Homo sapiens: one gene and its partners. The protein of the gene in region 3 purifies or fractionates together with the protein of the main gene of each other region. This does not show direct contact. Each region holds a gene or a part of one and is shown on either strand. Other genes may lie near its edges. The genes, in order: UBL7, PLAA and OR2G6.

Region 1 (3,655 bases), on a different chromosome or scaffold from region 3:
TCTGCCCGCCTCAGCCTCCCAAAATGCTGGGATTACAGGCATGAGCCACCGCTCCTGGCCAACATTGTGAATTCTTTTTCTGAAAGAACAGAAGTTTGGGATGAGTTAGGAAAGGAGAAGTTGGTCAGGGGAGGCTCCTCAGTATATTTGAGGTAGGTCTTCAGGGATGATTAGAAGGATTTTTGCTTGGTTGACTGAGTAAAGGAAAGGCAGTAAAAAAGAAAAAGTGGCGTGGGCAGTCCAGGTGGAGGAGGGAGGAATTTAAATATAATTAAATTACACTGAAAAGGTAATTTTTAATAGCTAAAGGATCCAACTGGCAAGAAAGATGTTTTCAGTCATACCTGGATTGGGTTCATCCTATTTTGTTGTTTTTCCATTGATTTAAATTGGGCAGCCTCCACAATGTTAAACTCCAGAGTTTTTCTGTGGATAGATTCTGTGTGAATCCTTTTTTTTTTTTTTTTTTTTTGAGACGGAGTCTTGCTCTGTTGCCCAGGCTGGAGTGCAGTGGCGAGATCTCAGCTCATTGTAACCTCTGTCTCCCAGGTTCAGGCAATTTTCCTGCCTCAGCCTCCTGAATAACTGGGATTACAGGCCCGCACAACCACAACTGGCTAATTTTTGTGTGTATGTGTGTATATATATATATATTTCTTTTTTTTTGAGACAGAGTCTTGCTCTGTTGCCCAGGCTGGAGTGCAGTGGTGTGATCTTGGCTCACTGCAACCTCCGCCTCCTGGGTTCAAGCAATTCTCCTGCTTCAGCCTCCTGAGTAGCAGGGATTACAGGCGTCTGCCACCATGCCTGGCTAATTTTTGTATTTTTGGTAGAGACGAGGTTTACCATCTTGGCCAGGCTGGCCTTGAACTCCTGACCTCAGGTGATCCACCCACCTCGGCCTCCCAAAGTGTTGGGATTACAGGTGTGAGCCACCGTGCCCGGCCCTAATTTTCGCCATGGCCCAGGTTTCGCCATGTCGGCCAGGCTCCAAAAGTGCTGGGTTTATAGGTGTGAGCCACCACATCTGGCCAGATTCGATGTAAGTCCATTTTATGAGTTTATATTTGCAAATAGTTGTTGAAATGTATTTAATTGGCTAGGCATGGTGGTTCACGCCTGTCATCCCAGCACTTTGTGAGGCTAAGGCAGGAGGATCCCTTGAGCCCAGGAGTTAAGAGACTAGTCTAGGCAACATGGCAAAACCCCGTCTCTACAAAAAACTACAAAAATTAGCTGGGTGTGGTGGCATGTGCCTGTAGTCCCAGCTACTCAGGAGGCTAAGGTGGGAGAATTGCTTGACCCCAGGAGGTTGAGGCTGCAGTGAACCGTGATGGTGCCATTGCACTCAAGCCTGGGCAACAGAGTAAGACCCTGTTTTCCAAAAAAAAAAAAGTATTTGTTAAGTTATTGAATAAGAGTATCTTTTAAAACATGTATCATTCTCCAGCTATCTAATCAAAATAAGGTTCTCGGGACAAAAACCATGTAAATTTGTTTTGAGGAGCAAAATATAAGTGGACAGTTCTTTTTTTAGATCTGATCTACTGTGGTCGGAAGCTAAAAGATGACCAGACACTTGACTTCTATGGCATTCAACCTGGGTCCACTGTCCATGTTCTGCGAAAGTCCTGGCCTGAACCTGATCAGAAACCGGGTGAGTGAGGGGCAGCCCTTAGGCAGGCAGAGTTTCTGTAATATCCGCAAGGGAAGGATCTGTGTGTTCTTGAGGCACAAGCCTGGGTGGAACAAAGGGATGATTTACTGAGCTGATGATAAATGATATCTTTATTACTTATTGGATTAGACCATGCTGATAAACAGAGTCCAATTTTGACCTTCTTACTGCCGGCATCACTAATGGAAGATTTGTTTCTCCATTTTGTTTTTTGTTTTTTGGTTTTTTTGAGACAGTCTCACTCTGTTGCCCAGGCTGGAGTGCAGTGGCACAATCTTGATCTTGGATCACTGCAACCTCCGCCTCCCAGGTTCAAGTGATTCTCATGCCTCAGCCTCCCGAGTAGCTGGGATTACAGGCATGAGTCACCATGCCCAGCTAATTTTTTTTTTTTTTTTTTTTCTGAGACGGAGTCTCACTCTGTCTCACAGGCTGGAGTGCAGTGGTGTGATCTTGGCTCACTGCAAGCTCCGCCTCCCGGGTTCACACCATTCTCCTGCCTCAGCCTCCCAGGTAGCTGGGACTACAGGCGCCCACCACCAAGCCTGGCTAATTTTTTTTGTGTTTTTTAGTAGAGACGGGGTTTCACCGTGTTAGCCAGGATGGTCTCGATCTCCTGACCTTGTGATCTGCCCGCCTCGGCCTCCCAAAGTGCTGGGATTAAAGGCGTGAGCCACTGTACCCGGCCTTCAATTTTTGTATTTTTAGTAGAGACGGGGTGTCTCCATGTTGGTCAACCTGGTCTCGAACTCCTGACCTCAAGCCATCCACCCCACCTCAGCCTCCCAAAGTACAGGCACCATTCCTGGCTTGTTTCTCCACTTTCTAAGTTTGTCATCCACTGTTTCCTAATGGGACAGGGAGTTTGTGTCTACTTAAACTCCTTTAAGTTAACAGTTTATTTTTTAGTGATACAAAGTAAACTTTGTATCCTTTTGTTATTATCGTTGTTCTCATTAGAAAAAAGCTGGAAACTTTTGGCACTTTCCTAATGCTGCAGTTTATTCCCTTGTTAACAAATCTTCCTACAAACTGCCTCAGGTGGTGATTTGTTCAGTTAGCTAACTGCTCTTGCTATACTGGTATTTTCCTGAAGATATTCAAAGAGTATTTAAATAGCTCTTGGAGAAAATATACAAAGCCTCAGATGCCTTTTTGGTTTATAAATAGAAGGTGCTTGGAATTCATGATTTAAATTTTGCATGTGTGTTTTAAAAGCCTCCCTAAGAATAAAGCTAAGCTGTGTAAAAGAGATTAGCTTTGTTACACTGGCAGGTTGACATCTTTTTATAATGTTCATGATTGCTGTGACTAGTTATCAGTTTGAAATTTACCCCCCTTTCAGTTCTAACTGTAAAAGACAAAAATGTCTTTCATACCCTGATGGGAAGTGAGAAAGAGGAACAGAGTTCCTGACATCCAGAGGTTGGCCTGGCACTCACAGCCAGGCCCTGGAATCCTTTTGGGGATCATGAACAATTGTACAGATCCCCAGTAGCAGTCAAGGCCACTCTGAGACCACTATGGATTAAGACAAAAACAAGATCCCTATTATTGCTGAACAGAAACACAAAAACATGAGCATTATCCAAACCACAAAGGTGACCAAGTATCTTTCTATCTTGGCTGATGAGAGTAACAGCTGCTTCTTGGCCAATTACAGCTTCCACCTTGCTCTAGTTTTCCTTCCTTCTAGGTAAGAGTTATTAAGATACTCAATTATAAAATCACTCCCACTGCCTGAAAGCATCCTATCCAGAGTAAAACCTCACTTCTTTAAATTTTTCCCCAAATCAGCCAGACAAAACCAAAATCCTGTAAGAAGTCCTTTCTGGCCGGGTGCAGCAGCTTACGCCTGTAATCCCAGAACTTTGGGAGGCCGAGGTGGGCGGATCACCTGAGATTGGGAGTTCGAGACAAGCCTGACCAACATGGAGAAACCCCGTCTATACTAAAAATACAAAATTAGCCAGGCAT
Region 2 (3,655 bases), on a different chromosome or scaffold from region 3:
GTTGTAATCCATCCTTCATCCTCACCCCCATCCCCTAATGAAATACTAATTTTGCATCACATGCAGATGGGGGCTGTTAATCTTTATCTGCCAAAAACGAAGATTTTAGCACTGCACTTTGGAGAAAGTTTAAGTACTGTAATTATTAAAGAACACATCTGTGTTATGTTGTATATGTCATTAATATATGTGAACAGATAATAAGCATGTATCTCCTTTTTATATTCCTACTTTAGGAATTTGATTATGTTTTCTCAATTGATGTCAATGAAGGTGGACCATCATATAAATTGCCATATAATACCAGTGATGACCCTTGGTTAACTGCATACAACTTCTTACAGAAGAATGATTTGAATCCTATGTTTCTGGATCAAGTAGCTAAATTTATTATTGATAACACAAAAGGTCAAATGTTGGGACTTGGGAATCCCAGCTTTTCAGATCCATTTACAGGTAAGTTAGTGTTTATATTGAGTCTTATGTAGTTCCATTAGTGTTGATTGATTTTTTTGATGTTTTCAAATAGTCATGTGATTAGCTTTTTCAATAAATACCAATATCTACAGCAGGGTTTTACTTCACATTCATATGTTTAAGCCTCAAATGATGAAGTAATTCTGTATTTTACAGAAATAATAGTAAATTGTTGTCTTTCAAAAATACAATCATACTATAATGGAATTTCAGTTATTTGAAACAAAAATAAACTTGTAAGTTCTTTTATATAGTGTTTCTTTTAAAAAATTATATTTTGGCAAAATTTAGTAAATCTTTTTTTCACATGAGGCTAAATTGGTCAGTCATGCATCAAATCTAAAAGTGAACCCTATGGGTAGTTTTAGTTTATATGTGATGTGTATTCTACACGTTCATTTTAAGTTAATTGTTTGTAACATCGTATACATCGTATCTCATGTTATAAATGCAGTTAGGTGCTCATACCAGTCTGTAAATTGTAATCCTAATGGTACTAGTCCAAATTCTGGCCCCTAGGAAGTGGAATCTAATCCTAGTAATATTAACGTGAGTTCTGGAGACTGGTGTAGGAGGAAATAAAATGCCTCCTCTAAATAACATTTTGAGATAGGCACTTTACTGTTAATGTTTTCCTCTCATCATTTCTGACTCAACATTTTTCAGGTGCTAGTGCTCTTCCTTGTTTTACGAGGACTTTGTATTATATTCCTGTCTCAAATCCTTATGTAGATCCACCTTTTCTTCCCTGACAGCTACTCCACATTCCCAAATTATCTCCTCATTCTACTTCAAAATTTCATTGCCCATTCATAAAATAAAACTAATGTTACCTGCATGTTGATTTAAATAGAATTATCAGGCCAGGTGTGGTGGCTGACGCCTGTAATCCCAGCACTTTGGGAGGCCAAGGCAGGCAGATCACAAGGTCAGGAGTTCAAGACCAGTCTGGCCAACATAGCGAAACCCTGTCTCTACTAAAAAAAAAAAAAAAAAAAAATACAAAAAATTAGCCAGGTGTGATGGATGTGCGCCTGTAATCCCAGCTCCTTGGAAAACTGAGGCAGGAGAATCACGTGAACCTGGGAGGCAGAGGTGGCAGCGAGCCAAGATCGCACCATTGCACTCCAACCTGGGCGATAGTGCAAGATTCCGTCTGAAAAAAATCAAAAAATTTTAAAAAAAATTATCAAAGTAACTTACTACTGAATTACAGATGATCTGATCCTCCAAATACTTGCACTTAAAAAGAAAATAATTGTTTAGTATGTGGATATTTTTGTTGTTGGAATTTCAGACTGTAGTTCAAGAGTGAACACAGATTGTAGTACTGTGTAAGCTATTTTGCATGTGGGATACAGGAAAGGAATTAAAGCAGCTGACTTTGTCTGGAAATCTAGGAAGCACTTGGCTTGTTTTGCCCTTCTGAGACTCTTAACTTTTTCAGCATCCTTACTGTTTTTTGTTTTTTGTTTTTTGTTTTTTTTGTGGACAACCTGATTATTTCCCTAGAGGTACTAACAAAACATAGGCACATACGCCACACATTCGTAAATGTATAAATGGAAGTCTCTTTCCTTTGTAGTTTTCATCCCTTTTCTAATTCTCTTCTCCAGTAGGTTGTAAGCTTCAGTGGATATAAGCAATTTTGTTCCCTTCTGGATCCCCAGCCCTGAGTCCATTGTTTGACACATGAATTAATGAACCTAGAGCTCTAAATGATTAACATTTAGTGCCTGTGGTTTTGATAACAATAACAACAGCAGGAACTCTTGTGAATTTGTATAGGAACAGGGACAGGAATTGATTGTATGTTTATATATTTAGGTCAGATATTACCTGCAATTCTCTTTTGATATTTGAATTAAGTTTTAATATTTAAGTGCTGGGGCTAAGGTATAATAAAGCATTAAAGTTAAGAAAACAAAACTTGGAGAATCATTAAAATTTCAGTTTTTTCCCAGTTATAAGACTTCTGACTATAGTTTCTGTCATTCTATCATGTGAAAGTTTTGCTCTTCTGTTTTTCTCCAAATGTAGGTTCTTCTAAAACAAGCATTGTGCTGTTTGAAAAATTCAGAACTTTGGTGCACTTCTGCCTTTTCTTTATTTTGCATGCACAGGTGGTGGTCGGTATGTTCCGGGCTCTTCGGGATCTTCTAACACACTACCCACAGCAGATCCTTTTACAGGTGGGATGTAGTTTTGATTCATGTATCTTTCTTCACTAAATGTATAGCATCTTGCATCACATGGCTTTACATCTTGGAGATGTCATCCAGTAATTGGTAATTCCCTTATCTGCATTTCCAATTTTGATGGATTTCCTTTTCTTTAACTTCTGATTTTTGCTTTTTCCTGGAGTGGTTGTGTAGATTCCCTCGTGACTTTTAAATAGCATATTATTAGAATTCATTGTTTTCTCCAGGGGTCCTTCCCACCAGGAGAGCAGTATAGTTAAGAATATAGGTTTTAGAGTCAGACAAACCTTGGTTCAAAATTGGGCTCTACCACTTACTTGCTATGAGAAGTTGGCAAGTTACCTAACCTGTCTGAGCCTATTTTTTTTATCTGTGAAATTAGATAATAGGGGAACCCACCAACCAAGACACAGCATGAGTGCTATCACTGGCGAGATGCTACCAATCACGAGCAGAGAAGGAGCCATGTGAGCCCTGATATTGGATGGAGCAGTACAATCAAGAAGTCTCCCCAGGCATATTTTGACTTAACATGGAAGGAGACATTCCACCCAACTACCCAGGAGTAGTCTTCCTAATCTAAGTTATTAATGTCCTTCTTGAAGCCCTTGAAGTGTTGGTGTATCTCTTCAAAATGAATTTATTTACCAAGGTATGCATGCCTCAGCATCAACACTACTGGAAAAAGTGCCAGAGTTGGACTTTAAGGCAGCTGAAGAAGTCTCTATTTTCAGAATGGCTTTTGATATCTTGTATAATGCTGTTGTTGGATCTTCAGACAGAGTTCCTCGACAGTATACTCAGTTTGGGAAGAGATCATAGCGTTTAGGTATCCACTGGCCTTGCAGACTGGTACTGTGAGCTATAAAAATGACAACCTACAGTCCTCTCTAAGTCATAGAGATTGGACAAACATACAACGTTAGGTCAGCATCATGAAGTTGTGGATTGCTGTCCGTGAGCTTCCTTTTTCCTGT
Region 3 (3,655 bases):
ATGTTTTAGGTGATATATAAGGAAGATAATTATACTGTAAACGACTGTGGATTACCATTCTTGACCTCATTACTTTCTATCCCCAAATATTAATCACTTAGTATTTGAAGCTGAAGAGTCCTGAAGCTGCAGGAAAAATGGAGGAAACCAACAACAGCTCTGAAAAGGGATTTCTTCTCCTGGGATTTTCAGATCAGCCTCAGCTAGAGAGGTTTCTTTTTGCCATCATTTTGTACTTCTACGTCTTGAGCCTTCTGGGGAACACTGCCCTCATACTAGTATGTTGTCTGGACTCCAGACTCCACACTCCAATGTACTTCTTCCTCAGCAACCTCTCGTGTGTGGACATCTGCTTTACCACCAGTGTTGCCCCACAGTTGCTGGTTACCATGAATAAGAAAGACAAAACCATGAGCTACGGTGGCTGTGTGGCCCAGCTCTATGTGGCCATGGGGTTGGGCTCGTCTGAGTGTATTCTCTTGGCCGTCATGGCTTATGACCGCTATGCTGCTGTCTGCCGGCCACTGCGCTACATAGCCATTATGCACCCCAGGTTCTGTGCGTCTCTGGCCGGTGGAGCATGGCTCAGCGGCCTCATCACCTCCCTAATTCAGTGCTCCCTCACTGTGCAGCTGCCCCTCTGTGGTCATCGCACACTGGATCATATTTTCTGTGAGGTGCCAGTGCTCATCAAACTGGCCTGTGTGGATACGACTTTCAACGAGGCAGAACTCTTTGTGGCCAGTGTAGTCTTTCTAATTGTCCCGGTGTTACTCATCTTAGTCTCCTATGGCTTTATCACTCAAGCTGTGTTAAGGATAAAATCAGCTGCGGGCCGCCAAAAGGCCTTTGGGACCTGTTCGTCTCACCTGGTTGTGGTCATCATTTTCTATGGGACCATCATATTCATGTACCTTCAACCGGCCAATAGGAGATCCAAAAACCAGGGAAAGTTTGTTTCTCTTTTCTATACCATAGTCACCCCACTTTTAAACCCCATTATCTACACTCTGAGAAACAAAGATGTGAAAGGGGCCTTGAGGACCCTGATACTGGGTAGTGCTGCTGGACAAAGCCACAAGGACTAGGAAACACCTGGAATTCTAAACAAGGGAAACACCTCAAGGCAGAGTGAGGGTTCATCCTCCCCAGACATTCCTCTTGTCAATCCCAAAGCCACAGGGACTAGGAAGCATTGGAATTCTAAAGAAGGGAAACACCTCAAGGCAGCGTGAGGATTCATCCTCCCCAGACATTCCTCTTGTCAATCCCAAAGCCACAGGGACTAGGAAGCATTGGAATTCTAAAGAAGAGAAACACACCAAAGCAGCATGAGGGTTCATCCTCCCAGACATTCCTCTTGTCAATCCAAGACCCTGTGTTCTATCTGGAAAAAAATGTTTGTCCTTCATCCACCTGCCATCAAGGTTCATGTATCCATTATTTCCTTCTAATGTGCCAGCCCATCTGATAGACTTCTACTAATGCTTCAAAACTCAGCTGAAATGTCACCTGCACTCACTAGCTGTCCTGAAACACCATCCTTCTCATCCTTGTGCAGAATTAACTGTTTCATAATATGTTTCCATAGCACTTGATCCACACTACCATTTCTACATTTCACATTTGAGATATATGTATACATATATCTCTAACTAGGCAAAGCAATGTATATAACAGACTGAAAAAATACATGACCATTTTCCCAGAATATGTCACTTTTAACTGGAGAATGGAACCATCCCACTCTATTGGCTTATTTACAACACGAGAAACACAAATATTAAGAGTTGTGATGCTTTGGTTCCACAGAATTGTGGGATGCAAATAATGACTAATATTTTATTAAAGGAATCAAATAAGCAAACTTGAATTAAGGAGATTGATTAAAAGTTGAGTAAAATTGCCATATACTAAAATGTGTTTTAACATTTATACAAAATTCATAAAATAAGTTATTGTTTTTGGCCTTAAACTCTGGAAAACAGTTACTTATGTAATTTTATACTTCAAAAATTTGAAATATGAATCCCACACACTGTCTCACGTTAACGATCATAGTTATATGTTTGGTTTCCAAAACAGCAAAAAAAATGAAATATTTAGAAGCATTTTAATAAATGTATTCTTATATTTGACCAAACTTTTACTTTCTGATTTAATTCTGTCTCTATCTCTCTGTGTATCTTTGTGTGTCTCAGCCTCTTTCTTGCTTTCTTTTCCCAAAACGATTGAACTTCATCAATTCGTCAACCTCAAGTATTTTAAGAGAACTGTGCAATTATAGAAAAAAGTGATTTAATCTGTGGTTGTAATTTTACTTCATATTCTCATTATGATACACATGAAAAAAGCATGAAAACATCAATGCAAATGAAGAGTAAAATGCAGGCAGAATCTGGGGTGGAAGTGGAATTTTCAAGTGATTTAGACTTTTCTTTTTTGGACAGGGTCTTGCTCTGTTGCCCAGGCTGGAGTGCAGTGGCTCAATCATGGCTCACTGCAGCCTTGACCTCCTGGGTTTAAGTGATCCCTCTGCCTCAGCCTTCCAACATTCAGATTTATAATAATTCATCCTGGTGTGAGAATATTGTAGCCTGTCTACGAATGTTAAGGATAACGTTTGGACCTGCCTCTCCTACCAAAGCCTGGACTGAAGGCAAAATGGCTGCGCACACAAGAACAAAAAGGCATCAGGAGAATTCACTAATGACTCAGGCTGCCTCTTCACAAATACCCTGTCCAGCTGGCACCTCTTCAATATACTTTTAGCAAACAAAATGATGAATATCCAATTTAACAAAAACGAGGGAAAAGAAGCCTGGTTAAATTTGTCTTCTAGGATATTCTTATGTGATTTTCCTCCTCCAGTAATGGAGAGGAGAGTTGGGAACTGAGCAGAACATGCTGAGGAGCACATGTTTTTATTTACAATATGCAAGTAGAGAAGTAGTTCTACAGGAAGCGTCACATGTACAAATGCATTATTCCTGATAACCCGAGCAACACAGCATAGGAAAGAATGTACCTGTGTCAGAGTCTCAATCAATTTACATGGAATATGGCCCCAGGGCAAAAGATGTGGCATTTAAAGGAAAGAAATAGCTCCAGGTGAAAAGACAACCATGTGTAAAGCAATGATATGAACACAATATGTAGAAAAACCTACATATGAATTGTGAAGCAACCATTTTCAAAGACAAACTCACATCCATTTAAGGTAATATGGAATACAAATCCCACTGAAAATAAAATCAAATTATTACTGTATACAATAAATTCAAACATAATTCAGAAAAAAATAGAATATCTGCTTATTGCTGAAATTAGCATCTTTAGCTGTAAGTTATTTGCACCCAAAAGGAAACCAGAAAATAATAGATATAACATAGGCAAAGCAACCTAAAAAAACTACTTAACTGCAGATGAAAATGGGAACACATTTGAAAATAAAATCCTGTTACTACTTTCTTGAATTTAGAGCTTTCCTATGATATGGATATGTTTATACTGCTTTTATAATCATCATACATGTATAATTTCATACTATTTTTATTTATAATGTGAGCATTTTTCTGATTAATCTAAAAAATATCCACCATTTATTAAAAATCTTCCCTATAATTGAATAACATGAGTAGTTTCTCTTTTTTAA

The links.
Region 1: the proteins of OR2G6 (region 3) and UBL7 purify together in Homo sapiens (affinity purification with mass spectrometry; one large-scale study listed by BioGRID and IntAct). This does not show direct contact.
Region 2: the proteins of OR2G6 (region 3) and PLAA purify together in Homo sapiens (affinity purification with mass spectrometry; one large-scale study listed by BioGRID and IntAct). This does not show direct contact.

What each region holds. Positions count from the first base shown.
Region 1 is NC_000015.10:74,454,554-74,458,208, reverse strand, and holds part of UBL7 (ubiquitin-like protein 7), read left to right. Parts: intron 1-1,537; coding exon 1,538-1,657; intron 1,658-3,655.
Region 2 is NC_000009.12:26,916,111-26,919,765, reverse strand, and holds part of PLAA (phospholipase A-2-activating protein), read left to right. Parts: intron 1-236; coding exon 237-456; intron 457-2,517; coding exon of another isoform or gene 2,518-2,600; coding exon 2,601-2,669; intron 2,670-3,060; coding exon of another isoform or gene 3,061-3,149; exon of another isoform or gene 3,150-3,655. UniProt on the Homo sapiens protein: Plays a role in protein ubiquitination, sorting and degradation through its association with VCP. Involved in ubiquitin-mediated membrane proteins trafficking to late endosomes in an ESCRT-dependent manner, and hence plays a role in synaptic vesicle recycling.
Region 3 is NC_000001.11:248,521,510-248,525,164, forward strand, and holds part of OR2G6 (olfactory receptor 2G6), read left to right. Parts: intron 1-101; 5' UTR 102-137; coding exon 138-1,088; 3' UTR 1,089-3,655. UniProt on the Homo sapiens protein: Odorant receptor.